Homo sapiens: one gene and its partners. The protein of the gene in region 4 interacts with the protein of the main gene of each other region in a biochemical or structural test. Each region holds a gene or a part of one and is shown on either strand. Other genes may lie near its edges.

What was found.
Region 1: of the proteins of TBL1X (region 4) and CASP3, one has a biochemical effect on the other in vitro, tested with the Homo sapiens proteins (one study listed by BioGRID).
Region 2: of the proteins of TBL1X (region 4) and CDC34, one has a biochemical effect on the other in vitro, tested with the Homo sapiens proteins (one study listed by BioGRID).
Region 3: the proteins of TBL1X (region 4) and MECP2 form a complex in vitro, tested with the Homo sapiens proteins (one study listed by BioGRID).
Region 5: the proteins of TBL1X (region 4) and THRA form a complex in vitro, tested with the Homo sapiens proteins (one study listed by BioGRID).

The regions. Positions count from the first base shown.
Region 1 is NC_000004.12:184,631,677-184,637,431, forward strand, and holds part of CASP3 (caspase-3 isoform a preproprotein), read right to left. Parts: intron 3,743-5,755; coding exon 3,618-3,742; intron 721-3,617; coding exon 592-720; intron 265-591; coding exon 89-264; intron 1-88. UniProt on the Homo sapiens protein: Thiol protease that acts as a major effector caspase involved in the execution phase of apoptosis. Following cleavage and activation by initiator caspases (CASP8, CASP9 and/or CASP10), mediates execution of apoptosis by catalyzing cleavage of many proteins.
Region 2 is NC_000019.10:533,202-538,956, reverse strand, and holds part of CDC34 (ubiquitin-conjugating enzyme E2 R1), read right to left. Parts: intron 3,121-5,755; coding exon 3,034-3,120; intron 2,715-3,033; coding exon 2,617-2,714; intron 1,945-2,616; coding exon 1,810-1,944; intron 280-1,809; coding exon of another isoform or gene 1-279. UniProt on the Homo sapiens protein: E2 ubiquitin-conjugating enzyme that accepts ubiquitin from an E1 ubiquitin-activating protein, and catalyzes its covalent attachment to other proteins by an E3 ubiquitin-protein ligase complex. In vitro catalyzes 'Lys-48'-linked polyubiquitination.
Region 3 is NC_000023.11:154,026,118-154,031,872, reverse strand, and holds part of MECP2 (methyl-CpG-binding protein 2), read left to right. Parts: intron 1-419; exon of another isoform or gene 420-422; coding exon 423-1,506; 3' UTR 1,507-5,755. UniProt on the Homo sapiens protein: Chromosomal protein that binds to methylated DNA. It can bind specifically to a single methyl-CpG pair. It is not influenced by sequences flanking the methyl-CpGs.
Region 4 is NC_000023.11:9,712,101-9,717,855, forward strand, and holds part of TBL1X (F-box-like/WD repeat-containing protein TBL1X), read left to right. Parts: intron 1-2,801; coding exon 2,802-2,903; intron 2,904-4,119; coding exon 4,120-4,146; 3' UTR 4,147-5,755. UniProt on the Homo sapiens protein: F-box-like protein involved in the recruitment of the ubiquitin/19S proteasome complex to nuclear receptor-regulated transcription units. Plays an essential role in transcription activation mediated by nuclear receptors.
Region 5 is NC_000017.11:40,071,956-40,077,710, reverse strand, and holds part of THRA (thyroid hormone receptor alpha), read right to left. Parts: intron 5,123-5,755; exon of another isoform or gene 4,043-5,122; intron 3,520-4,042; 5' UTR 3,223-3,519; coding exon 3,170-3,222; intron 841-3,169; coding exon 773-840; intron 204-772; coding exon 103-203; intron 1-102.

The DNA of each region.
Region 1 (5,755 bases), on a different chromosome or scaffold from region 4:
GAAAAAAATTATCCTTTGGATAATTTACAGTTGAGAATAGTAACCCCTGCTTAATCGTCAATAACCAAATCACTCAGTTAGACATTACCTGAATAATGAAAAGTTTGGGTTTTCCAGTTAGACTTCTACAACGATCCCCTCTGAAAAAGTTTGTTATTTTTTTCAGGTCAACAGGTCCATTTGTTCCAAAAATTATTCCTTCTTCACCATGGCTCAGAAGCACACAAACAAAACTGCTCCTTTTGCTGTGATCTTCTTTAGAAACTGTAAAGACATTTGCAAATAAAAGGAAAAAAAATCCATGACTTTATTCAACAACTTCAGATATACTGTATGGGAACATGATGAAGAAACTGAGACTAAAACTAAGAGGTCATCTTAACCTAACCTGGGGCACGGCAACACATCTCAAACCATTTTAGGAAGTTGGCATAAATAACTTTTTTTAAACTTCTTACTAAAGTATGTAAGATTAGGGTTATGTACAGTATAATTCCACAATTCTCATATTTTATTATACATATAATTATTGCTAGACCATAGTATAAAATTAATTGTACAATGAAGTTCATTCTAATTGTTTCTTCTTACCATCACGCATCAATTCCACAATTTCTTCACGTGTAAGATCATTTTTATTCCTGACTTCATATTTCAAGTTTCTGAATGTTTCCCTGAGGTTTGCTGCATCGACATCTGTACCAGACCGAGATGTCATTCCTTGGAACAGAAAGAATTACTTTTAATTGTATGGAAAACAAAGAATAACTACTTTGAAATGAAATTAACTACTCAGCAATTCAGAAGTCCACAATAAATTCTTCCTTTTAAATGGTAAGAGAATTCTAACTATTTTGAACATGGTGAACAAAATTTCTTCAATTTTGTAGCTTATAAGATACTTCATAATATAAGCTCATCAGTGTTATAGCCAAAATGATGTCTTTCACAGCGGTTTAGGTAGTGAAAAACACAAATGTCTAACAATAAGGGTTTGGTTAGACAAGCTATACTAACTTATATAATGGGATATACTATGTTGTCATTTTCACAGATAAAATGTTGCCATGGGAAAATCATCAGTTTAAAAAAATAAGACTAGAAAACAATACGATCCTATAATACATACACACATCTGTCACACTCAGAGGAAATGCGTTTCTCTGACTCTAACTTCCCAACAATTTTAAGATAGCATTACAACATTTATAGTGCCTTCAAGGAAAACCCCCAAACATTATTACTGTTCATCAGGTATTCTGCTATGGCTAATCTCTAATCCTTCCAATCACCATGAGAGTCATATTATTACTAGTTTCACTTGTGCAGATGTGGGACATGTAGCAGAGTTAACAAACCAGTCCAAAGTGACAAAGCTATGCTGGGCCTGTATCCAGGGCTCCTGGGCTTTCTACCACTCCTTTAGAGAACCTTCCACATTAACGTACAGATTGACTGCATGATGCACTCAGATTTCAAAATGCTAAATCTTGGTGGGAAACATCCCTCAGAATTGAGTAAATTTGATGGGTATGAAGATTAAATACAGAAAGTCTACATGTATCTCCAAAATGTTGTTGATTATCTCAGCTGTGTGACAAGGTCACTGGCTTCTGGTGCTGATGTGTTGGCTGCCTTTTAATTTTTATTTATTTTTATTTTTTAGACAGGATCTTGCTCTGTGGCCCAGGCTAGAGTACAGCAACCACAGCTCACTGCAGCCTCAACCTCCCAGATTCAAGCTATCTTCCCACCTCAGCCTCCCGAGTAGCTGGGACTACAGGTGCGCACCACCACACCCTGCTACCTTTTTTCTGTTTTGTAGAGATGGGATTTCCCTGTGTTGCCCAGACTGATCTTGAACTTTGGTGCTCAAGGATCCTCCTGCCTTGGCCTCCCAAAGTGTTGGGATTACATGTGTGAGCCATGGCGCCTGGCCCAACACCAGCCTGCCAGAGATCTCATGAGAACCTGACCTTTACATTGCAAAGTAGGAAAGGAGCTCACTGGGCAAAACCCAGACTGCTGGTCTAAATATGTGGGGGGAGGTGCTGGTGGTAGTGGAATAATATGCTTGTTTTTGGTTTTTGAAACAATAGAGCCAACAGTGCAAAATTCTATAGGAAGGAGGTATCCTAACTAGAAATGTGAGGCAGAATATCTAGAAGTAAATTTTCAAATATGCGTAAAGCAAAAGTAAACAAGGTGTTGTGTTTTTAAGTTAATGGTTGAAGGTGGCATCTCAACTTATAGCCAAAAGCAATAAAACTGATGCCATTTAGAGCTCCATTTTCAACTATTCTCTTCTCACTCCTTATAATTAATCTGACACAAACCCTGCTATCTTCCCAGTGTAATCTGGCTTCCTTCCATTTCCACCACCACTCTGATAGGTACTGGCCCACCTTAGATCTACTACAGCTTCTCTAATTAAAAATTAACTCTAATATGATTAATAGGCCAATTCAAAGAATTATCATAGCATCAATTTAAAAGGGAAACAGCCATAATGTTCATTCATACAGTAAATTATTCAAATTAAGTGAATGGTAGTTTTGGGGATGCAGTATTATATAATCATTATAACAGATATGAAAATTATGCAGCAATATGAAAAATGCTATTCCTTTAAGTGAAACAAGCAGAAGACAACATTGCTTATACGTTATGAATAAAATCAAGCTTTAAAAAGAACTGCCAAGAAAAAATAACAATACACCAAATATTAATTAGCTTTTTTGGCACTGTGAAGGATTTTATTATCTATATTTCTAAAAAAACATTCTCAAATGTAGTACTACATTCAAGTTGTACATAGTACAGAAATCGAGAGGGGGATCTGGTGGCAAGGCCATGGTAAATTTAAAGCAAGCAGTTTTAGTAGTAGAGACAGAAAATGGAAAAAGACTCAAGAAGGAATGGAAACAAATGAAGAGTACAAGCTTAAACTACATGTATTCAAAATTTAAGGAAGAAGGGAAGGAGACAAAATATCAAAGGAATCAAAAGGAACAGAGTAAAAGAAAGGTCTCTCTAAGATGGGGAGCTTCGTAGGGTAAGGGAAGACAGGCAACAGAGCACATGAGGATACAAGGAAGTGAAGCAGAACAGAAGATGGATTCAGAGCTTGGGCTTTGGAGCCACACAGACCTAGCTCTGCCGCCATACTGTGTGACTGCGCGAGGTCTTTAACCTTTCAGAATCTCATCGTTACTTTCCAGGTTGTCATAAATTAAATAAGGCAATGCTTGTGATATCTCTTGCAGTTTCTGGGGAAAAAATAAATACTACCACTTAACTGTTTTTTTGAGAACCTTCCATTGGGATCAAAGAGGAAGCAGAAAGAAGAAAAAGAAGCAAGGGCTACAGAGAAGTCAGGGCAGAGGCAACCAAGCATACAGATAGGAGGCCAGCAAGAGGAGGCTATGAAGTTGGGCAGAAGAGTGACGCGTTCACAGTGTATCAGAGGACCTGTAGGTCCTGCCCAATCTCTACTTCACAGCTAGTCTGTGTCACGGTTTACTGTCTAATACCTCAATAATACTGCTTTTAATATTATATCAAATGTAAATGGCACAAACATTTGAAAAGGATTAAAAATTATGTAAGACACATACCAGTGCTTTTATGAAAATTCTTATTATTAATTATTATACATAAACCCATCTCAGGATAATCCATTTTATAACTGTTGTCCAGGGATATTCCAGAGTCCATTGATTCGCTTCCATGTATGATCTTTCTGTTTAGAAATCAAATAATAGCTTTACAAAGGTAGAAATGACCACGCCTTCTGTTTATATTAGTGCAATTTTTATAACTCACAGTAACAGTTAACACTTGTTGAATGTTATAAACCAGGCTGTCTTCATTTCAATTTCACATCAACAGTTATACAGATGAGAAAATGACCTGACGTGAGGCTAAGTAATGTGCTAAAGGTTATGCAAATATTGTGTCACAGCCAAGAAGGAAGGAAAGCATCTGTTGGACTTCAGAGTTCAGGCTTTTAACTTCCATGTTTTACATTTTCCTCTAAATTCTTCAAAATTTCATCAAATACCTTTATAATTTAAAAATTACTTATTAACTTTGTGAAATATTTTATCCTTTGAGGTAAGAGTAAAAATCTTAAAAATTACCCTGAAATGATGGGAAATCAACAAAATGCAAATATAACTCAAAGCACAATATTTATCACAATTCATAAATTATTCCTTAAACCCCATGAGCTAAACAAATTAGTAATTTATTAATATATAAAAGCATTATTGTAAATAATTGAAAATATCTGTCTGGAAGTCACTTATCTAAAAAAACCTCTGCTATCTAGATTGGGGTCAGTAAACTTTTTTTTTAATGGGCTAAATATTAAGTGTTTTAGGCTTGTGGGCCATCTGGTTTCTGTTACAGCTACTCAATTCTATTCTTTTTTTTTTTTTTTTGAGACATGGTCTGGCTCTGTCACCCAAGCTGGAGTGCAGTGGTGCCATCATAGCTCACTGCAACTTTGAACTCTTGGGCTCCAGTGATACTCCTTCCTCAGCCTTCTGAGTAGCTAGGACTACAGACAGGCATGCCCCACCATGCCCAGCTAATTTCTGTATTTTCTTTTTTAGAGACAGGATCTCGCTATGTTGCCCAGGCTAGTCTTGAACTCCTGGCCTCAAGTGATCCTCCTGCCTTGGCCTCCAAAAGTGCTGGGATTACAGTTGTGAGCCACTGTGCCCAGCCATAGCTGCTCAATTATACTGGTGAAACGGGCTTAGGACAATATGTAAGCGAATGGATGTGCCTATATTCCAACGAAAGTTGATAAAAACAGGCCTTAAGCTTGATCCCTGATCTAGACCAAGAGTCAGGCAAAAACAGGTCTAGGAACTACCAAACACTAACACCTACAGTCCATATACTCATGCACTTAACCTTAAGAGCATCTCACATTATACACAATTCCAAAAATACTGTTGGAAAAAGATTAAATGTAGTAAATTAAAGGAGTCAACGTGAGAAAACAGTTATGATTTTTAACCAGAGGTGAACAGCCTCACATTTACAGACTGAAGTTAAATCCTGAAAGCGTGACTTGACCTTTGAGTCCTACAGATGATGGATCATGGGACTTATGACTCCCAGCTCCCGACACCCCTTCCCCACGTGCTCTGGGTGCCTCCTAAGGAGGTAGGTACTTTACAAGCATATGATAGCTAGTCCACGAGGGGATACTCCTAATAAAAGGCAGAGGCTGTGAAAGCCGGGACTGTGAGGGCAACTTACCAAAGGATCGAAACAACCCTAAACCTGTCTGGGGCTTCCGTGCAACTTGTTATTGAAGTGGTGTTCTGCATGACATGAAAAGGTAGGGCCAGGCAGGGTGGTTCACACCTGTACTCCCAGCACTTTGGGAGGCCGAGGCAGGAGGATCCCTTGAGGCCAGGCATTGGAGACCAGCCTGGGCAACACAGCAAGACCCCCATCTCTACAAAAATAAAAAACAAAAATAACCAGGCATGGTGGCACATGTCTGTAGTCCTAGCTACTCAGGAGGATTACTGGAGCCCAGGAGTGCAGTGAGCCATAATCAGATCACTGCACTCCAGCCTGTCTCAAAAAAGAAAGAAAAAAAAAATAGTAGGAAAATGTGTAAATCACTTTCAAAGGATTTTTTTGAAGAGATGGGGTCTTACTTCACTGTAACCTCTGGCGTGTAGCTAGGACTGACTACAAGCACACACACTATGGTGGACTAATTGTT
Region 2 (5,755 bases), on a different chromosome or scaffold from region 4:
AGAACCGGGCCAAGGAGCCAGCCACCTGGGCCAGGTGACACGACCGGACCGGGGCCACCGAGGACATCTGCACCAGAGGGACGGCCAGGGCAGCTACCCTGTGACCTCCAGAGGCCAGCAGGTGCTTGCAGGCCACTTCCCAGGAGGCCGCACGGGGCCCGCCCACCATGGCTGCTCAGAGCCGAGACCGCCCAGCACCAGGATGCTGCCCCGAGATGACCCCACGACACCAGGTACCAGCGAGTGCAGGATGGAAGGTGCCCTGGATGCTCCTGGGTCCTGGGGCGAGGAAGACACATGCATTATGTGTGCAATATTTTAAAAGTTGTTTTTAAGATTCTGTTTATACAAAATACCAACAAAAATAGGTGAGGCCTCTGTGAGGAAATCTATGCAATATCACTCTGAGAAAAAAAAAAAATGGATAGGAAGGGCCTCTATGTAACAGGAAGAGCAGGAACCATTAAGGCCGTCAACCCGTAAAGAAAGCCTTGTCTTTGTACACAGACACGCACGTGTTTACACATTCATGTGAACACAGGCACCCAAGAGAAGGGGCTGTGGGGCTCAGCTCTGGGGCATGAGGGCGATGGGAGGAGAGGGAGAGCCGTGGGTCACCACACACAGCCACGCAAGCTAAGTGGACTGCAGGTACAGAAGGCGCCGGTAGGCGACTGCACAGCTGTACCCAGAGCTCACCAGGCCAAGAGCCTGCAGGGACGCACTCCAGACATGAGTAAGGCCAACACCCCTGACTAACAGTCAGTCACTGGGCACACACAGCACGACCCCATTTTTTCATTAAAGCACAGACACATGTTCCCTAACAGTCAGTCACTGGGCACACACAGCACGACCCCATTTCTTCATTAAGGCACAGACACATGTTCCCTAACAGTCAGTCACTGGGCACACACAGCACGACCCCATTTCTTCATTAAAGCACAGACATGCGTTAAACTGAAAAGCCTGGAAGAATCTATGAAAACACTAACCACCAGGCCAGGTGCAGTGGCTCACGCCTGTCATCCCAGCACTTTGGGAGGCCGAGGCGGGTGGATCACCTGAGGTCAGGAGTTTGAGACCAGCCTGGCTAAGATGGTGAAATCCCACCTCTACTAAAAATTACAAAAATTAGCTCGGCGTGGTAGTGGGCACCTGTAATCCCAGCTGCTTGGCAGGATGAAGGGGGAGAACTGCTCCAACCCGAGTAGTGGAGGCTGCAGTGAGCCGAGATCGCACCACTGCACTGCAGCCTAGGCAAGAGAGTATAACTCTGTCTCCAAAAAAAAAAAAAAAAAAAAAGGCCGGCCGCGGTGGCTCACGCCTGTAATCCCTGCACTTTGGGAGGCCGAGGCAGATGGATCACGAGGTCAGGAGATCGAGACCATCCTGGCTAACACGCTGAAACCCCGTCTCTACTAAAAATACAAAAAATTAGCCGGGCGTGGTGACGGGCGCCTGTAGTCCCAGCTACTTGGGAGGCTGAGGCAGGAGAATGGCGTGAACCCGGGAGGCGGAGCTTGCAGTGAGCCGAGATCGCGCCACTGCACTCCAGCCTGGGTGACAGAGAGAGACTCTGTCTCAAACAAAAAAAAAGAGGAAAAGGGGCAAGAAGCTGGGCTTGAACCTGGCTGGACCCTCCGCCACTCGGCCCGGCCTCCATCTGTGACTGGCACCCTGTAAATGGGCACCAGGAAGCTCCGCCACCCTCACCAGGAAGGTGGGGCTGGGCGGCCGTGGGACCAGGGGCCGGGGTGCAGGCCGGATCTGAGTCTCTCCTCCCGTGACGCCCCCGCCCGCCCTCACCGGATGATGTCTGTGTACTCCCGATCCTTCCCCTTGCTCTCTTTCCACTTCCTGTACATCACGGAGGCGTCCACGTTTGCGGGCGAGAAGGTGTTGGGCTCGTTCAGGAGGGAGATCACACTCAGGAGAATGGTCCTGTGGGGAGAGTGGGTCGGAGTGGGGCGGCCCGGGGCACCCCAGCCTTCCGGCTCTTCTCTGGCCCTGAGGGTCACGGGGACGCCTGGACCCACCCAGCAGGTGACCTTCACCTGGCCTCATGGCCTCTGCTTCTGTCTCAGGCCCCCAGAACAGCAGGGGCTGGACCTGCATCAGTCTCCTCCCTCCCACGCCAAGACCAGGGAGGGCAGCAAGGTGCAGACCCCTCCGTCAGACCCGGGGCTGCCCTCACACCCGCACGTCCTGCCTAGACTACACTCCAGGACACACGGGCAACACGGCCCAGTGCTTGTACCTGGGGACGAGGCCCAGGCGGCACACGTGGCACGAGGTGACCAACCCAGAGACGGCTGGGTAAGGAGAAGGCCCCAGGACTGAGGATGGCGGGACACCTCTAGGTGGTTCCAGACGGTGGGGCCGGCCTGGGGTCCTGGTGGGAGTCTGCACCGACACACGGTGCCGCAGGCCCCGTGAAAGCACCTACCGTGCAGGTACAGCGAGGCCCAGGACCGCCAGCTGGCAGGTCCCGAATCAGGCCTTGGCGCCACAGCCTGTGGGGGAGCCCGGCCTACCTGATGGTCTGGGTGGATACGGGACGGAGCCCGGCCTACCTGATGTTCTGGGTGGACACAGGGGGTTGGGCCGGCTTACCTGACGTTCTGCGTGGGGTTCCACCTCTCTGAGGGCAGCTCCCCGCTCTGGGGGTCGTCCACCGGCGGGTGGAGGATGGAGATACACACGTCCCCCGTCTGCACAAGAAGAAGACAGGTCAGAACAGGTCAGAGGTCAGCACGGGCTCCCAGTGCCCCAGGTCCCGGAGGATGAGGACGTGGAGGACGAGGACGTGAGGCTCCCAGCGCCCCGGGTCCCGGAAGGACGAGGACATGAGGCTCCCAGCGCCTCGGGTCCCGGAAGGACGAGGACGTGAGGCTCCCAGCGCCCCGGGTCCCGGAGGACGAGGACGTGAGGCTCCCAGCGCCCCGGGTCCCGGAAGGATGAGGACGTGAGGCTCCCAGCACCCTGGGTCCCGGAGGATGAGGACTTGAGGCCCGTGGGGGCCGCGCTCACCTCGTAGATGTTAGGGTGCCACATCTTGGTCAGGAACCGAAAGGCTGGTGGAGAGTATGGGTAGTCGATGGGGAACTTGAGGCGCGCCTGCAGGGGCAGAAGGCAGGTGGCTCAGTCCAGCCCAGCCCCAAGACCTGCCCCAGCTCACAAGGTGCCCAAGGCCATCCCACTCCCAGTGCTGGTGCCTGAGGGTGTGTGTGAGGGACACCGTATCCTGCCCAAGGCAGGGACTCTCACAGGCCTGGGGTCAAGTCCCCAGAAGGCTGCCTGAAGCCTTTTCTGAGTCACCCGAGCTGATCCCAGCTCCTACACAGTCCAGGTGGCCGGGACCCGGCCCAGCACAACTGCTGGGGAACGTGGGCACTGGCTGCCCGCGTGGCTCCAGGCCCGTGGCAGCCCAGGTCAGGCATATGGGACCCAGGCCAGGGGCACCCACCAGCAGACAGAATGGACTGGCAGGGGCTCCAGGCTCCCCTTGGATGGAGCTGAAGCCCAGGACCAGGGCTGCACCTCCAGGGCCTTGGCAGCCAGGGTGTGGGGAGGGTTAGCACAGATGATTGCTCAGTTAGCAAACACTTGTGACACCTGCCCTGGCCCAGGCCGTGGGAGGGGATGAGTCAGTATGGCCGTCTGCCCTCAGGTGTCCGGTCTTGGGGGGTCAGGCAGGCAGACCCATAGGTCACAGAAACCTGGCAGGACTCCTTCCCTGTCAGCATCGCCCCCTGTGGTCACCCAGGCCCTGGAGGTCCAGATCTGCTGGCAAGGACGGCCACAGAGGGAGGCCTGAAGCCACGTGCCAGGTGACAGAGCTGTCTGGCCTGCAGCCTGGGGCGTGATGCCACCCACGGCCCTCCTGGGCCACAGCAGGTAAACAAGGAAGCCTCACTGTTTTCCTGCTGGGCCCCAGTGCCAGACACAGAGGTTGTCTGGGTCAGGGGTCCTGGTGGCACTCAGCACTCCAAGGCACGAGAGCAGCACCCCCAGAGCGATCGTGGTGGAAGCCTGGACAGGGAGGGCACTCAGGGGGTCTTGGATCGTGGGCGAGGTCTGGACAGGGAGGGCACTCAGGGGGTCTTGGATCGTGGGCGAGGTCTGGACAGGGAGGGCACTCGGGGGTCTTGGATCATGGGCGAGGTCTGGACAGGGAGGGCACTCGGGGGTCTTGGATCGTGGGCGAGGTCTGGACAGGGAGGGCACTCGGGGGTCTTGGATCGTGGGCGAGGTCTGGACAGGGAGGGCACTCGGGGGTCTTGGATCGTGGGCGAGGTCTGGACAGGGAGGGCACTCGGGGGTCTTGGATCGTGGGCGAGGTCTGGACAGGGCGGGCACTCGGGGGTCTTGGATCGTGGGCGAGGCCTTGACAGGGAGGGTACTCGGGGGTCTTGGATTGTGGGCGAGGTCTGGACAGGGAGGGCACTCAGGGGGTCTTGGATCGTGGGTGAGGTCTGGACAGGGAGGGCACTCAGGGGGTCTTGGATCGTGGGCGAGGTCTGGACAGGGAGGGTACTCGGGGGTCTTGGATTGTGGGCGAGGCCCCTCCCGGACAGGCAGGGCACTTTGGGGGTCTTGGATCGTGGACGGGCCCCTCCTGGACAGGGAGGGCACGCGGGGTGTCTTGGGGGGTGTCCTCTGTTTGACAGGGAACTCACTGGTGCCCCGTAAGGCAAGTGACTTGGCCGCGGCCACAGAGCAAGGCTGGAACTTCAGTCTCAGAACTGTCCTGCGGTTCCCCAAGACTTCAGGCCCCCCAAGCCTGGTGCTGGGTTTCAGGCGGCAATCCTTGACAACAGCCAAGGCCTCATCTGTACCAAACCCCACCAAGTCCCAATGAGCCTCTTATTTTGGGCACCTCTAAGAATGTCTTTTCCCCGGAGCAAACCCAGGCTCAGAAAAGGAAAGCGCCCTGCCAAGGGCAGACAGCAAGTCGGCTGTGGAGGGCTCTCTCTGGCGGCCCCTGCCCCAGGGCTCACTTTGGCTCCTGAAGGAACAGCAGCTGCAGGCAGTGGCTGGGCAGCAGCGGCCCTGGGCACTCAGCAGGTTCTGTATTTCCACGCTCCCCCAACTCCCTCCCAGGCACAGCGGGAAGGGAGAGTCCTCGTGGGTGGCAGCACCCCCGTCTCAACACTGGCTTCTGAGGACTGACCCTGTGGCAGATGTCTAGAGGCCCCCTCCCTGGGAAATCCGGAAAACCGGATTATCCCCTAATGCTGGCCCAGGAAGCTCTGCCCACAATCCCTGGCAACCGGTCTGGTGGGCACAGCAGCCAGAAACCCCCATCCCCTCCTTCCAGAACAGCAGCCGCCTCACAGGCCTGGCTTCGAGGTGGGGCTGCGGCTCCTCAGCCAGCTGCTCCCCCAAGCAGACAGAAGGGGCTGGCGGAGGAGCTGCTAAAACCATTTGGCAACCTCGAGACCCAAACTCTGTTCCCTGTGTGGGGACGCAGGATTCCAGATGCAGAACCCACGGGCGTCCCACTCTCTGCTCAGGAATCGCCCCCAGCAGACCAGGCTGCTGCCCTCACAGCCGCTGAGCGGGTGCGGTTCAGACACTAATTAGCTCGGAGAGCAGACACATATCGTGCGGGAGGCATCGGTCCCTCGGCCCCACGCCCGCAGCTGGCCGGGGCAGAGCGGGCCGGGCCCTGCAGTGTCGTGTCGTGTCCAGGCTCTTGGCAGGAAGTGACGGTGGGAGGGGGAGATTCCTGGACAGGGTGCTCGTTCCC
Region 3 (5,755 bases), about 140 Mb from region 4:
TTTTCAAATGACATTTGCAGACAGCCTCATTTAATTCCATGAGAAGGGTGAGCAAAGGATTATCTTGTTGAAACTGATTCCTGGAGAGACTGAGCACCGTACCTGAGTTCAAACTTGGGAATGTTCTAGATGGTGACTCAGGCCCAGGCACCAACCAGCAGAATGGGCCTCAGCCTGACAACCCTTCTGTACCAGGCCTGACTCTTTGGTTGCTGAACTTTGGAGAGGCCTGGGGGGGTCAGCGGCAGGCAGACGAGTGAGTGGCTTTGGTGACAGGTCCTCAGGGGCAGCCAGGCAGTGTGACTCTCGTTCAATAGTAACGTTTGTCAGAGCGTTGTCACCACCATCCGCTCTGCCCTATCTCTGACATTGCTATGGAGAGCCTCTAATTGTTCCTTGTGTCTTTCTGTTTGTCCCCACAGTCCCCAGGGAAAAGCCTTTCGCTCTAAAGTGGAGTTGATTGCGTACTTCGAAAAGGTAGGCGACACATCCCTGGACCCTAATGATTTTGACTTCACGGTAACTGGGAGAGGGAGCCCCTCCCGGCGAGAGCAGAAACCACCTAAGAAGCCCAAATCTCCCAAAGCTCCAGGAACTGGCAGAGGCCGGGGACGCCCCAAAGGGAGCGGCACCACGAGACCCAAGGCGGCCACGTCAGAGGGTGTGCAGGTGAAAAGGGTCCTGGAGAAAAGTCCTGGGAAGCTCCTTGTCAAGATGCCTTTTCAAACTTCGCCAGGGGGCAAGGCTGAGGGGGGTGGGGCCACCACATCCACCCAGGTCATGGTGATCAAACGCCCCGGCAGGAAGCGAAAAGCTGAGGCCGACCCTCAGGCCATTCCCAAGAAACGGGGCCGAAAGCCGGGGAGTGTGGTGGCAGCCGCTGCCGCCGAGGCCAAAAAGAAAGCCGTGAAGGAGTCTTCTATCCGATCTGTGCAGGAGACCGTACTCCCCATCAAGAAGCGCAAGACCCGGGAGACGGTCAGCATCGAGGTCAAGGAAGTGGTGAAGCCCCTGCTGGTGTCCACCCTCGGTGAGAAGAGCGGGAAAGGACTGAAGACCTGTAAGAGCCCTGGGCGGAAAAGCAAGGAGAGCAGCCCCAAGGGGCGCAGCAGCAGCGCCTCCTCACCCCCCAAGAAGGAGCACCACCACCATCACCACCACTCAGAGTCCCCAAAGGCCCCCGTGCCACTGCTCCCACCCCTGCCCCCACCTCCACCTGAGCCCGAGAGCTCCGAGGACCCCACCAGCCCCCCTGAGCCCCAGGACTTGAGCAGCAGCGTCTGCAAAGAGGAGAAGATGCCCAGAGGAGGCTCACTGGAGAGCGACGGCTGCCCCAAGGAGCCAGCTAAGACTCAGCCCGCGGTTGCCACCGCCGCCACGGCCGCAGAAAAGTACAAACACCGAGGGGAGGGAGAGCGCAAAGACATTGTTTCATCCTCCATGCCAAGGCCAAACAGAGAGGAGCCTGTGGACAGCCGGACGCCCGTGACCGAGAGAGTTAGCTGACTTTACACGGAGCGGATTGCAAAGCAAACCAACAAGAATAAAGGCAGCTGTTGTCTCTTCTCCTTATGGGTAGGGCTCTGACAAAGCTTCCCGATTAACTGAAATAAAAAATATTTTTTTTTCTTTCAGTAAACTTAGAGTTTCGTGGCTTCAGGGTGGGAGTAGTTGGAGCATTGGGGATGTTTTTCTTACCGACAAGCACAGTCAGGTTGAAGACCTAACCAGGGCCAGAAGTAGCTTTGCACTTTTCTAAACTAGGCTCCTTCAACAAGGCTTGCTGCAGATACTACTGACCAGACAAGCTGTTGACCAGGCACCTCCCCTCCCGCCCAAACCTTTCCCCCATGTGGTCGTTAGAGACAGAGCGACAGAGCAGTTGAGAGGACACTCCCGTTTTCGGTGCCATCAGTGCCCCGTCTACAGCTCCCCCAGCTCCCCCCACCTCCCCCACTCCCAACCACGTTGGGACAGGGAGGTGTGAGGCAGGAGAGACAGTTGGATTCTTTAGAGAAGATGGATATGACCAGTGGCTATGGCCTGTGCGATCCCACCCGTGGTGGCTCAAGTCTGGCCCCACACCAGCCCCAATCCAAAACTGGCAAGGACGCTTCACAGGACAGGAAAGTGGCACCTGTCTGCTCCAGCTCTGGCATGGCTAGGAGGGGGGAGTCCCTTGAACTACTGGGTGTAGACTGGCCTGAACCACAGGAGAGGATGGCCCAGGGTGAGGTGGCATGGTCCATTCTCAAGGGACGTCCTCCAACGGGTGGCGCTAGAGGCCATGGAGGCAGTAGGACAAGGTGCAGGCAGGCTGGCCTGGGGTCAGGCCGGGCAGAGCACAGCGGGGTGAGAGGGATTCCTAATCACTCAGAGCAGTCTGTGACTTAGTGGACAGGGGAGGGGGCAAAGGGGGAGGAGAAGAAAATGTTCTTCCAGTTACTTTCCAATTCTCCTTTAGGGACAGCTTAGAATTATTTGCACTATTGAGTCTTCATGTTCCCACTTCAAAACAAACAGATGCTCTGAGAGCAAACTGGCTTGAATTGGTGACATTTAGTCCCTCAAGCCACCAGATGTGACAGTGTTGAGAACTACCTGGATTTGTATATATACCTGCGCTTGTTTTAAAGTGGGCTCAGCACATAGGGTTCCCACGAAGCTCCGAAACTCTAAGTGTTTGCTGCAATTTTATAAGGACTTCCTGATTGGTTTCTCTTCTCCCCTTCCATTTCTGCCTTTTGTTCATTTCATCCTTTCACTTCTTTCCCTTCCTCCATCCTCCTCCTTCCTAGTTCATCCCTTCTCTTCCAGGCAGCCGCGGTGCCCAACCACACTTGTCGGCTCCAGTCCCCAGAACTCTGCCTGCCCTTTGTCCTCCTGCTGCCAGTACCAGCCCCACCCTGTTTTGAGCCCTGAGGAGGCCTTGGGCTCTGCTGAGTCCGACCTGGCCTGTCTGTGAAGAGCAAGAGAGCAGCAAGGTCTTGCTCTCCTAGGTAGCCCCCTCTTCCCTGGTAAGAAAAAGCAAAAGGCATTTCCCACCCTGAACAACGAGCCTTTTCACCCTTCTACTCTAGAGAAGTGGACTGGAGGAGCTGGGCCCGATTTGGTAGTTGAGGAAAGCACAGAGGCCTCCTGTGGCCTGCCAGTCATCGAGTGGCCCAACAGGGGCTCCATGCCAGCCGACCTTGACCTCACTCAGAAGTCCAGAGTCTAGCGTAGTGCAGCAGGGCAGTAGCGGTACCAATGCAGAACTCCCAAGACCCGAGCTGGGACCAGTACCTGGGTCCCCAGCCCTTCCTCTGCTCCCCCTTTTCCCTCGGAGTTCTTCTTGAATGGCAATGTTTTGCTTTTGCTCGATGCAGACAGGGGGCCAGAACACCACACATTTCACTGTCTGTCTGGTCCATAGCTGTGGTGTAGGGGCTTAGAGGCATGGGCTTGCTGTGGGTTTTTAATTGATCAGTTTTCATGTGGGATCCCATCTTTTTAACCTCTGTTCAGGAAGTCCTTATCTAGCTGCATATCTTCATCATATTGGTATATCCTTTTCTGTGTTTACAGAGATGTCTCTTATATCTAAATCTGTCCAACTGAGAAGTACCTTATCAAAGTAGCAAATGAGACAGCAGTCTTATGCTTCCAGAAACACCCACAGGCATGTCCCATGTGAGCTGCTGCCATGAACTGTCAAGTGTGTGTTGTCTTGTGTATTTCAGTTATTGTCCCTGGCTTCCTTACTATGGTGTAATCATGAAGGAGTGAAACATCATAGAAACTGTCTAGCACTTCCTTGCCAGTCTTTAGTGATCAGGAACCATAGTTGACAGTTCCAATCAGTAGCTTAAGAAAAAACCGTGTTTGTCTCTTCTGGAATGGTTAGAAGTGAGGGAGTTTGCCCCGTTCTGTTTGTAGAGTCTCATAGTTGGACTTTCTAGCATATATGTGTCCATTTCCTTATGCTGTAAAAGCAAGTCCTGCAACCAAACTCCCATCAGCCCAATCCCTGATCCCTGATCCCTTCCACCTGCTCTGCTGATGACCCCCCCAGCTTCACTTCTGACTCTTCCCCAGGAAGGGAAGGGGGGTCAGAAGAGAGGGTGAGTCCTCCAGAACTCTTCCTCCAAGGACAGAAGGCTCCTGCCCCCATAGTGGCCTCGAACTCCTGGCACTACCAAAGGACACTTATCCACGAGAGCGCAGCATCCGACCAGGTTGTCACTGAGAAGATGTTTATTTTGGTCAGTTGGGTTTTTATGTATTATACTTAGTCAAATGTAATGTGGCTTCTGGAATCATTGTCCAGAGCTGCTTCCCCGTCACCTGGGCGTCATCTGGTCCTGGTAAGAGGAGTGCGTGGCCCACCAGGCCCCCCTGTCACCCATGACAGTTCATTCAGGGCCGATGGGGCAGTCGTGGTTGGGAACACAGCATTTCAAGCGTCACTTTATTTCATTCGGGCCCCACCTGCAGCTCCCTCAAAGAGGCAGTTGCCCAGCCTCTTTCCCTTCCAGTTTATTCCAGAGCTGCCAGTGGGGCCTGAGGCTCCTTAGGGTTTTCTCTCTATTTCCCCCTTTCTTCCTCATTCCCTCGTCTTTCCCAAAGGCATCACGAGTCAGTCGCCTTTCAGCAGGCAGCCTTGGCGGTTTATCGCCCTGGCAGGCAGGGGCCCTGCAGCTCTCATGCTGCCCCTGCCTTGGGGTCAGGTTGACAGGAGGTTGGAGGGAAAGCCTTAAGCTGCAGGATTCTCACCAGCTGTGTCCGGCCCAGTTTTGGGGTGTGACCTCAATTTCAATTTTGTCTGTACTTGAACATTATGAAGATGGGGGCCTCTTTCAGTGAATTTGTGAACAGCAGAATTGACCGACAGCTTTCCAGTACCCATGGGGCTAGGTCATTAAGGCCACATCCACAGTCTCCCCCACCCTTGTTCCAGTTGTTAGTTACTACCTCCTCTCCTGACAATACTGTATGTCGTCGAGCTCCCCCCAGGTCTACCCCTCCCGGCCCTGCCTGCTGGTGGGCTTGTCATAGCCAGTGGGATTGCCGGTCTTGACAGCTCAGTGAGCTGGAGATACTTGGTCACAGCCAGGCGCTAGCACAGCTCCCTTCTGTTGATGCTGTATTCCCATATCAAAAGACACAGGGGACACCCAGAAACGCCACATCCCCCAATCCATCAGTGCCAAACTAGCCAACGGCCCCAGCTTCTCAGCTCGCTGGATGGCGGAAGCTGCTACTCGTGAGCGCCAGTGCGGGTGCAGACAATCTTCTGTTGGGTGGCATCATTCCAGGCCCGAAGCATGAACAGTGCACCTGGGACAGGGAGCAGCCCCAAATTGTCACCTGCTTCTCTGCCCAGCTTTTCATTGCTGTGACAGTGATGGCGAAAGAGGGTAATAACCAGACACAAACTGCCAAGTTGGGTGGAGAAAGGAGTTTCTTTAGCTGACAGAATCTCTGAATTTTAAATCACTTAGTAAGCGGCTCAAGCCCAGGAGGGAGCAGAGGGATACGAGCGGAGTCCCCTGCGCGGGACCATCTGGAATTGGTTTAGCCCAAGTGGAGCCTGACAGCCAGAACTCTGTGTCCCCCGTCTAACCACAGCTCCTTTTCCAGAGCATTCCAGTCAGGCTCTCTGGGCTGACTGGGCCAGGGGAGGTTACAGGTACCAGTTCTTTAAGAAGATCTTTGGGCATATACATTTTTAGCCTGTGTCATTGCCCCAAATGGATTCCTGTTTCAAGTTCAC
Region 4 (5,755 bases):
ATGGCACGAAACCTTCCACCTGCCTCTTCCTCTTCTTAGCAGTTATCACCGAAGTGCTGCTCTCTAGATACTGAGGTTAGAAGGTGGGAGTGGGGGACCAGCTAACGGGGTCAAGGCCACACCAGCTCCTGCAGCTCCCTTACGGAGCAGACCAGGGAGTGGGAAGGAATGTGCTCTTGCTGTTGTCATGCCACTTCAATTTTTCTTTTCTGTTTTGTTTTGTTGTTGTTGTTTTTTGTTTTTGTTTTTGTTTTTGAGACGGAGTCTCACTCTGTCACCCAGGCTGGAGTGCAGTGGCGCGATCTTGGCTCACTGCAACCTCTGCCTCCCAGATTCAAGCAAGTCTCCTGCCTCAGCCTCCTGAATAGCTGGAATTACAGGCACCCGCCATCATGCCCAGCTTATTTTTGTATTTTTAGTAGAGACAGGGTTTCACATGTTGGCCAGGATGGTCTTGAACTCCTGACCTCAGGTGATCCGCCCACTTTTGCCTCCCAAAGTGCTGGGATTACAGGTGTGAGCCACCGTGCCTAGCCTCAATTTTTCAAATCAAAGTAGGTTCTGTTTGAGGACATAAGGTATGTCAATATTGGGTTGTCCTTTTAGCAGGGATTGAAAGGACATAGGATTTAAATAAAGGTGGCTGCTGTGGGTATCTTGGGCCACACCTGAGGATAGAAGAATTCCAGCTGTAAAGTGTAGAAATGGATGGGAAGTAGCACTGCATAGCATAAAGGATTGTATAGGGCCATCAGCACGTGATTCTAGTCTAAGGGAAGAGAGAGGTGATAATATGCTAGGAGCTGTTGAAAATAAGGAAGGGGTCCCTTTCGCCTCAGGAGGGGAGGAATCACACAGCCTTCCCCCTGCCCCCTTTCATCTGCACTGCCTTCTTGGTTCCTTTTGGCTTGGTTGACATTCAGGTGGATTTATACCCTCAAGTTCATTCCCCCTGTGGACTCAATGGTGATGAGCCCTGTTCACTGGCAAGGGGTCCACTGAGATCACAGGCTTCCCAGGGACCTCATGTGAACCACATCCTCTCAGGGAAGGAAGGGAAATGGTGGACCCTGCGTAGAGCCAACCCGACGCCAAGCCCAGCCCCACAGCCCTAGATAGCTCTCCGGGAAGCACGCATCTCAGCACTAGTGTCCAAGAGTCTCCGTTCCTGAAATCCTCGCTAGAAATAGTAATGGGTGGATTTGTAAAAAGAACACATCAATTATCAAAACAATGACATGATCAGTTAGGTACAGCCTGTTGTCAGGAACTCACTGAACTGTTTCAACCCTTTTTTATAAATCAAAGAAATCCTTAGGACTTTTCTTTTTTTTTTTTTTTTTTGGATCGGAGTTTCACTCTCGTCACCCAGGCTGGAGTACAGTGATGCCATCTCGGCCCACTGCGACCTCTGCCTCCCGGGTTTGAGCGATTCTCCTGCCTCAGCCTCCCGAGTAGCTGGGATTACAGGTGCGCACCACCACAGCCGGCTAACTTTTGTATTTTTAGTACAAACGGGGTCTCACCATGTTGGCCAGGCTGGTGTTGAACTCCTGACCCCAGGCAATCTACCCACCTCGGCCTCCCAAAGTGCTGGGATTACAGGCATGAGCCACCGCGCCCGGCCAAGAAATCCTTAGGAATTTTCTTAAGAGAAATCTTAAAGCCCACTTTAATCTTTCTCCAAGTATAAAAATACTTATCTGTAATACTGCCGACACACACCTTTCTCAGTTCATGGAACACCACCCTTTAAGGGGCCCAATTGAGCAGAGGATTTGGGACAGCCCTCCTGGTCTCGGTGTTCAGATTTCTCCTGCCTGTCACCATAGTGAATCATGAGTGAAGGCTTATTCGACTCTTTCTCTCTTTTTTATTTTTTAAAATTAATTTTTGTAGAGACGAAGTCTCACTGTGTTGCCCAGGCTAGTCTTGAACTCTTGGGCTCAATCCGTCCTCCCGCCTCGGCCTCCCAAAGTGCTGGGATTACAGGGTGAGCCACCTCGCCTGGCCTTATTCAACTCTTTCAAAGGCCTCAACTTCCCCTACCTCTTAGATTTGTCAAGTTAATGCTGTTTTAAACCGGAAACCAATGGTCTGTGGTGTTTTCCATTACATGTATATTATGCATTTCTTCTTTCAAATGTCCAAAAATACGTACATTTTAATGTCATGGCATATTATTACATTTAATCATGAATTACAGTCAATTTAATTGCTACTGGGGTGGGTGTATTCATTATGTTGTATTCATTCAGGTCCTCCAAAGAACAGACACCAGAACAGGATTAGATGGGCGAGAGATTTATTGGGGGAAAGAGCTGTGATGGAAACAGGGAGGAAGGTAGGGGGAAGGGAGAATTCAGACCATAAGGCCAGTCTGACCCTGGGAAGGAGACGGGAAGGGTAGGAAGAGTCAGGGATGGCCCTTACAGGTCTGTAGAAAGTTTTGGTCGTGCTGATGGAGAGTCCATGAGCCACTTACCCACCAGATGAGTCTGAGTCTCAGCAGGTGACTGCCATGGTCTCCCGCCTCCATCAGTCCTCAGCTGGGTGCAGCCTCAGAATCCACGCAAATGTGGCAGATTCCGCAGGCATAAGTAATCAGGTTCACTCCTCGTGGTGGGAAGTCCTAGAGGCACATCTCCATGGCCCCCAGAGTCCTTACTGAAAACCCTTAAATTTCACCATGCTTGAAAATGTTCATGACGAAACGTCAGGGCCGGAGGAGCGCACATTCCACACCTGCATCTGTCGCAGGCGCCCCTTGCGTTGTAAGTGACAGCTGCTTTGCTTTGCAGAGTGGAAATCTTGTCCACAGCTACCGAGGCACTGGCGGCATCTTCGAGGTGTGCTGGAACGCCCGAGGAGACAAAGTGGGTGCCAGCGCGTCCGACGGCTCTGTAAGCAACACCTCTGGTTTGCTGGGGAGTGGGGTGTTGGGGGCAGCTGATGCCTAAGTGAGCTTCCAGGGCGTGTGCAGCATTCGTGTCCTGAAGGGCCTAGCCCAGTGCCAAAGGAAGCTTCTGGGCTGGATCCCATCGGAGTTGGTACCACATCTGGGAATGGCCTTCTCCTTGTCCCTTCCAGAGTGTCCTTCTAGTCAACATTTTCTCAGTCAAATTGGTGGTTCTCAACCAGGGTGATTCTGCACCTCTAAGGACATTAGACAATATCTGGAGCCATTTTAGGTTGTCACTACAGTCATGTGTCGCTTAATGACGGGAACGTTTTGGGAAATGTGTCATTAGGCACTTTTATCTTTGTCTGAACATCATAGAGTGACTGACACAAACCTAGATGATAATACCTGTCCCACACCGAGGCTGTGTGGTACAGCCTATTGCTCCCAGGCTACAAACCTGGACAGCGGGTGACCATACTGATTCCTGTAGGCAACCAGAACACAATGGTAAGCATTTGTGCGTCCGGATCTATCTAAACATAGAAAAGGTTCAGCAGATATATGGTTATAATCTTACAGGACCACTGCGGTCTGTGCGGTGCGTTGTTGCTGGAAACGTCATTATGTGACGCGTGACTGTGCTTAGATGAGGATGCTGCTAAACCTCCTACTGTGCACAGGGTGGCCACAATTGTCACCCATGCTGTGGCTGAGAAGCCCGGGCCTCTGGTGGCCATCCTGCAGGTCTCCTGGGCCCTCTTCTCTTCCCATGGGGCATCTGGATTTCTTATTTTCCCCTGGACTTGAGGTTGCCCTGACCTCTGGGGCAAGCGGCCGTTCTGGCTGAACGGCCAAGGGTCAGAGTAGTCCCCAAATGTTGTCAGAGGCTGTGTACTTGGGCTCGTATTGTCATCTGCCCCACGATTGCAGGTGTCCCTTCTGGGACCTCTGCCACTCTGTTAATTCCTATCATTACCCTTAACCTGGCCTTTCTGCTCTGTGCTGTTTGCTTCAGTTTGCTCGGTCCGATGTCCAGATGCCAGTCTGTTATGAGAGCTTCTCTGACCCTTCATGACGATGTTCCAATAAACTTTACTGACAAACATCGGTGGAGGGCTAGATTGGGCGTGGGGGCCGTAGCTTGCCGACTTCTCACTCTAAAGGCATCTTTGTATTGTCTCTCAAGATGACAGGTGCTTTATCTTTCCTTCCAGGTGTGTGTTTTGGATCTGCGGAAGTAACCACAAAATATTATCGAAAAAAGAAAAGAATTCTAATGACCAGCCGTGAATGTGTAGGGTTGCAGCTCTATTCTCCAAAACTGTAGGAACTTGACTTGCGTTAGAGTGTACTCTGAAACCAACTCGTCTCTGGCCGCAGGAGTCTATATGTTTTCGTAATCTTCATCAAGAAGTTTTTAAAAGGCAAGCAAAAACAGAAGCAAATCATATCAAACGGGGATAGAATGGTTTCCACTGAGGACATTCAGCCTGGGAAGGAGGAAGTCACCAGCTCGAGGCGTGTGGATTGGTTTCCACCCGGAACAGGCTCTGTGATGGCTGAATGGAAAGAAACGTAAAAAGCTGTGCCAAAAAAAAAGCAAAATGCTGTGATAAACCAAACAGGGAAGGGGGAAAAACCCTCCTCCTTGGGATTTTTTTTTTTTGTTTTCCCTAACAATTTGGACACTACAATTGCTCTCACAAAGGAGGTTCAAAGACCAGTTTGTACCGATGAAACGCGCAACTTTGTAATCCCAACACTTTCTATTTTCTAGAATCTTCTTTGTTCATTGGGTGGTTTTTCAGTCGGCTGGAATTCTATCTTCTGGGGGCCTTCCGTCTGAGATGGAAGCTGTCTTGGGCTTGTTGTCTCTTCCTTCTGTTGCTCCCTGCCCCTCCCCCTGCCTTTCCACTCTGTCTGGTGAGCTCTGCTTTTTCAGTGCACCATCAAGAGATGCAGCCCCGTGGACATGAAGACACAATCTCCCACGGACAGCTTTCCCCCTTCCGCCCTCTCCCACCCTCTCCTCCCCTTGCGCTCGCGCTCGCGCTCGCTTTCTCACTGGCGTGCTCTCTTTCTCTCTCTCTCTCCCTCTGTACCTTTCTCATAGTTGCTTCAGATCTTAGGTCTCAAGGGCACTTTGGCGCGTAGTAAGTGCTTTATGTAAGAAGGCAGGGCAGGGGGGCTTTTTACAGGAGAAAAAAAAATGACTTATAAGAGAAAGAGCCTGGAGTATTTTTGGAAAAAAAAATAATATTTTTATGTTAAAACAATTTTAAAATCTTAAAATGGCCATCAGACATAGAGAGCTTTGTGTGATTCATGTTTTAAAAAGAACCGAAGAAGCCACAGGCAGGGCCTGAGGGAGCCCCTGGCTTTCCCCTCAGCCTCAGGAAAGGTGGTCAGGAAAACTCTGGCTGGACAAGGGTCAGTCTTCGGGGTCAGCAGCGAGATTGCTCTGCAGCCAGTGAGGGAGGTCCCCGCCATGCCGGCTGGAAGAAGAACCTCGCATCTTTTGGTGTGTATGCACCTTGGCAGCCAGCAGGAAAGCAGCGAAGAGCCGCGCGCCCTCTGGCCTCAAGGGAGCATTGGCAGAACCATAAGGTACTGCAGAAGCCGTCGAAACCGACTGCTCGGCTGGATTAGGCGTGTTGGCTACATCTTTCCCACAACCGTATAACGACCGATGGTCATTTCTCCAAGAGCAGGCTTGGCGAGTCCTTGCAGAGCTGACATAGAGGCGCCCGCATGTCACTTAGTCTAACGCTGACAGAAATGAATGCAGAAGGAAGATTTTCAGTCCTGAACGTGAATTATAGAGGTAGAACGTCGCTAATAATTTCTGCC
Region 5 (5,755 bases), on a different chromosome or scaffold from region 4:
AAAAAAAAAAAAAGTGATGACCTAACAGGCGGGCTTTAGGTGACATAGGGAGTAATATGGGGGCTCAGGTGGCAGGGGAGGGGCAGGAGGTAGCTTCCATACCTTGCAGCCCTCACAAGTGATACAGCGGTAGTGATAACCAGTTGCCTTGTCCCCACACACGACACACTGCTCGTCTTTGTCCAGGTAACTAGGGATATACCCTGGGAGGAAGGAAAGGATGGAGGAAGGCAGGCATGGCTTGGAGTCCCAGCAGAGAGGCTCTCACACTTTTCCCCATCCCTCAACTTTTTGTTTCTGACCCCTCTCCTAGCCCAGCCTCCCTGGTAGAATCCTAGAGAGACACGAGGTGAACCTGTCCATCTCTGCCCTAAGAGTATGAAGAATCTCAGTTCTTCTGACTGCCCATTCAGGGCTTTCTTCTTGATCTATCTACAAGGCAGAGGATGGTGGAGAGGGAAAAATAAACGTCAGCTGCTCACTGGGGATAATACAGCCCCTCAGTCCTTCAGCTCAGGCCCTGATTCTGGTAGGGCCTCAGATGAGGGTATTAGGGGAAGAGGGAAGAGGCCGTCCTGACCTAATCCACCCTCAAAAGCTGGGCACATCCCACATTACCTTTCTCACCCCCAGACAAGTCCATCCCAAGCCCTCTAGGAGGCTCCCCCCAGGGAACACATGAATTACTGTTCCACATCCAGGTCCAGAGGAGCCCTGGCTGGGTTTGGTGGGGTTGGGGACGTGGAGAAGGGGCACGCACAGCCAGCCTCACCTGACATGCTGGTTTTCAGGGAACATTGGCCGTTCTTTCTTTTTCGCTTTCCATCTGGTGACCTGGCACTGGATGGAGGCAAAGTGGGCAGAATCACAGAGCAGTCTTCGAGTAGCCCCTTTCTCATCCGAGAGGCTTATGCAATCCCCCAAGGCCTGATTCTTTCCATTTTGTGTCCTCATTCTACCTCCCACCCCCCAGGGTCAGCTGACAATGCTTAAAAGGGTCCAGTTATCTGGAAGTTGCAGGGGAGAGAGATAAGGGGCTTGGCTGTGGCACAAGCATATTCTAGAGCCCCAACACACACACATTCACCCGCCAGAAGACCTGAAGCACCCATAATCTGCAGGACATCCTCATCTTTCAGTACATGACGAATACGCTGGAAGAATTCTCAGGATATGCTTAAAGCTATGTAGCCTTTAGAACACACACATACATATGCAACATAACACCGGCACAGATGAATAACCATGCAACCTTCACTATAAACCCATGGATGGTGAGTATGCACCAGGGCCAACATACCTGTGAAATTTTCAGGGCATTCTTAAATGTGCTATACAACCTCTAGGATATGCCCATGTGTTACACAACACTCTGCACAGGCACCTCATAAAACCACCCTCATCCCTCCAGTGTGCACGTGTTGCTTGAGCTCCAGGTCATACACACATGCTAAATAACCCACAGCAATAGAAAACACTACACCCTCTGCACAGCCTCCATTTAACAGAGCAGCAAACTGAGACCCTGCTTGTGCCTGGTGACACCATGAGCTAGAGTCAGAGCCGGGACTGAGCCCCTCTGTGCAGCGTATTATTAGCAACCCTCAGCCACTGCACATATATGTTGCCAGGCTCTCCACATACATGTTGCATAACCTCGGTGCACACAGGTTACATAAGCCCTCTACATGCATGCAAGGATTGTATAACCTCCCGCACCCACCCTGCGTGTGGCATGTTGCAGGCCCCTTCCTCCTGGAGCCGGATGCAGCTCCCAACACACTGACACAGTGACCTTGGCCAGGGTCACAGTCACAGACAACCCTATGCTCCACGCCCCGTGGGGATTACTCCGGTCTACTTCCTATGAGGCTGAAAGGTCAGGTCTCCCTCACGCCTCCCAGAGGGTTGGGTGCAGGGGAACTCAGCCCACCTAGGCCCCAGTTGAGCTAGCGGCTTCAGCAGTTACCACCAGACTCACAGCCTCTGAGTGTAGTCCTAGAGATAGCCACAAGGTGGCGCATAGACATGGGGGAGGGGAAGGTGATGGGGGAGGGGTTGCAGTCTTAGGAGACTGGGAACTGGCATTCCTGCCTTTCTCCAAACATTAAGCACAGACTCTTCCAGACCCACAGAAGCCTAAGCTGGGAGACACAGGGGCTGCAAGTGACAGCCACACAGCGACAGGCCAGATCGTCCTCAGAGTCCTTCCTGGGGTGAGGCTTTGGGGGAGGGGAGCTACCCCATGCCCTGCCCAGCTGTGAGTTCCATCTACTTCCTCTACCCTCCAGGGACCCAGTTGTGGGCCTTAGGGCTTTGCCTGGCCAGGCCTCTGGCTTCCTGGCTCGGGATCTGATCTCCTAGGCAACAGTCAGCCACACTGCTCCCCGGAGCACCCCCACCCCCACCCTCTCCCTGGCCATAGGCACAGGCTGTACCCAGCTCCCAGGGCACCGTGCCAACTGGGACAAAGCTCTGTGCCACTTGGAGCTGATAGAAAAGACAGAGACCCTCTGGGCTCCTCAAGGGCAATGCAGATCACAGGTAACCATCCCTTGGTGTATGTGCAGGGCTGACACCTCACCCATGTGGAAGCAAAACCATCATGGTTGGCGTGCACTTTCTGGGAGGAGCCCCATCGCAGTGCCCGCCCTTGACCATGAACAAGGAAGAGCTTGTGGGGCTCCCAATAGATTCCGAATATAAGCTTGGGCTATGACCAATAGTTACTGGTGCATGTGCCCTGAAATGTATTACGTGAACCGCAGCTTGTGGACAACACACTTGTGGTCAGATAGTAAATGGGCTGGTAGGGAGAGGAAGAAAATGGCAAGGCTGTTTGGATCCCACATGCTCAAGGTAAGGGCAGCAATGGTGGAAGGGACGTTGGGGGCATCTGAGACTGCCCAGCAATGTCTAGGGAAGAGCCCCTTATGTGCTCCCTGTAATTGCTCTGTATCGCTCCCCGCTTCAAAATGAGCATCTCTCAATCCAAGTGCCTGTCACATCTGAACATGACTTCATCTGCCAGACAAAGGTAGGCAGAAGGCTTGCTGGCCTCACGTCCATCCCACAGAGGTGCTTAAAGGCGGTGCCTAAAGGAGAGCTCAGCCAGGTGCCCATGCCTGCTGCTTAGGAGTTGGCATGACCTAGTTGCTGAACCCATTACCTGTTCTCCTCTGGGTCTGACCCACACTCCACCTTGCTTGGCTTCTGTTCCATTCACTTCAATTCCATCCAGGATGCCCTCCAGCACGCCAAGAGACTGGGGTGGGCACACTGGCCCCCCCGGCACACCCACAGGCCACCCACCCCCTGCCACCCAGGCCCTAGGGCACAGCACCCATGATACCCGCCTCAGCACTTGGCCTTTCACACCATGCCCTGCGCCCCAAGGGGGGCGGGCGGTGGGAGGGGCCAGGGAGTGGCAGGTGGGAGGGCTGGGGGCAAGCTGGGTTTGTGGGTCCCGGGCTGTGTGCTGGGGGAGTAGCTTCGGAGTCTTGTCCTGTCCAGAGATCCCTGTGGAGAGAAGAGAGAGGCAGGGGTAAGAAGGTGTCACGGTAGGAAGGTGGGTAGGATCCCTTTGGTGGCAACATTTGGGGCTTTGGGATCCCATAACAAGACAGCAGGGGGCAGGAAGGGCAGGCATAGAGAGGGGACCAGGATGATCCCTTAGATAACAGGTACAGCAGGCGAGATTGGAGATCCACCTCCTAAGCCCCAGACATGGGAAGGAATGGAGGGAGAGAATGAGATCATTCATGTACTAAGTAATATGTCTCAGTCTTCATATTCAGACAAATGCCTGGCCCTTAATGAGCAACTATTAAACACTAGCTATTGTTACCACCCCTCTAGAAAAGCTTTCCTGAAACTCATCTGTATTATAGGGGCAAGAGGGGACCAGAGACAAGCAGTTTTCAGCATAGGCAGGGAGGGTATCTGTGAAGGAAGGATGGGACATAGAGCGGCACGCAGTGAGCATGAATGCCCATCTTTGTGCCTTAATAGAGAGAGATGTTGAAAGCTGTAGGGAACTGACCTCCCATGCTGCCAGCCAAGTTATGATCCCCAACTCTGGCCCCTCAGGGACTCCAGAGCTTCCCACGCAAGGTCTCGAATCCCACTTCCCAGGCAGAGGACCAGACTTCTCAGTTGGTTTAGCTGAGCTGCTATCGACCAGGATGGCAAGGGGGAAAGGAAAGGAAACTAACACATATTAACTGGAGAGAGAATCTGTACCCTCCAAAGAGGGCACGAGAACTTCACAGATGAGGAAACTGAGTCTCAGAAAGCTTGGTCATTCACTCAAGTTCACACAACTAGTAAGCAGGTGGCTGTGGGATAAGCCTCACAGCCTGGCCCTAATGCTAGCCTTGTTCTGCTACCTGGAGTCCAGGGCAGTGCCAAGCCGGGCCCACCATTCCTACGGCATTGCACCTCTGACCCTGGGCTGCAGACCTGTGGCTTACTGTCTGTGTGCACACAGGCAGGTGTGGCGGGTAGGAGGGGGACAAAGGGTACAGCTCCCCAACATACGACCTCAACCTCTGTCACGTGGCTGCTGCATAGGAGACCTCACCCCTAGGCCCCCTGGCCCCACCCCCAGGAGCTGATAAGCAGCCAGGGTGGGAAGAGAGAGGGAGATAAGTCAGGGGATTGGGCAGGGCCAGCAGCAGAACGGGGCCTCTGCACCCAGGCAAGCTGGTAGTGTGGAGAGCATGGGCATTGCACAGAAAAGTGGCCCGTTCTACCTCTGATACCCACCCCAGACCAGGACTGGGCACTGGGGGCTGGACAGGAGACTGGGGTGGGGGGGCATGAGCAGGGAGCCTTAGCCCAGGGAGCCATCAAGAAAGTAGGTCAAGTTTTTCTTGGCTTGTGGAGAAATTCCTGTTATAAATTTATAATGGCGTAGCCAGCCCTAAGGGGTGGAGGTTGGGGAGGAGAAGGAGTGGGTGGGGAAGCCCAGGGGCTGGGCACTGGGGCCTAATGCTCTCAGCCAGACAGTGAGGGGCAGGGGGCGAGGGCCGCTACGGGGGTTGGGCTGGACAATAGAGGACGATCTTCTGACTCCACGTCCAGCGAGGCTGCCTGCATGTCTGTCTGTCTGTCTGTGTCTGAATGTCTCTCTCTCCGGGTCTGGGTGTCTCCGTCTGCCCCCCAGGCTGTGCCTCGGTGCTTGGCACACCCTGGCTGTGGTGCTGCCCCCGCCTGTCTCCTGCCCGCCTGGCACACTGCCACCACTTGTTTACAGAAGCTGGAAAAATCCACTCGCCAGCCGGAGGCCCAAGCGCCCCCAGGGAGGGGAGGAGGCAAGCACAGGAGTGGGCATGCTGAGAGAGGGGCAGCCCCGGGGAGCAGGTCCTGGGGGCAGCCGAGGAGGACCAGTGTGTGCAGGAATGAGCACTGGCTGCTGTGGGCCGGGCCAGGCGGGGAACACCAGTGGCAGCCACATGGCATGGGCAGCTCCTGCCCCAGGCCAGGGCTCCTGAGGGTCCCCTCCCCCAGGCCCCTGCCACTTACCAGTTGCTACATTGCAGACCTGGAGCAGTGCCAACCTAAGCCACCATGTTTATTTCCCCATCCCTCTCTCCTGCCCAGCCTTAACTCCAAATGTGTCTGGGTACTGCCAAGGGCCTGCACGTGCCCACTGGGGGGAGGGGCAGACTCGCTCTCTGCCCCACCCCTCTTTTGAACTGAATGGTGCCCTGGTGCTGGGCAGTGCAGCCCAGCTACAGTCAGCCCCTGGTAG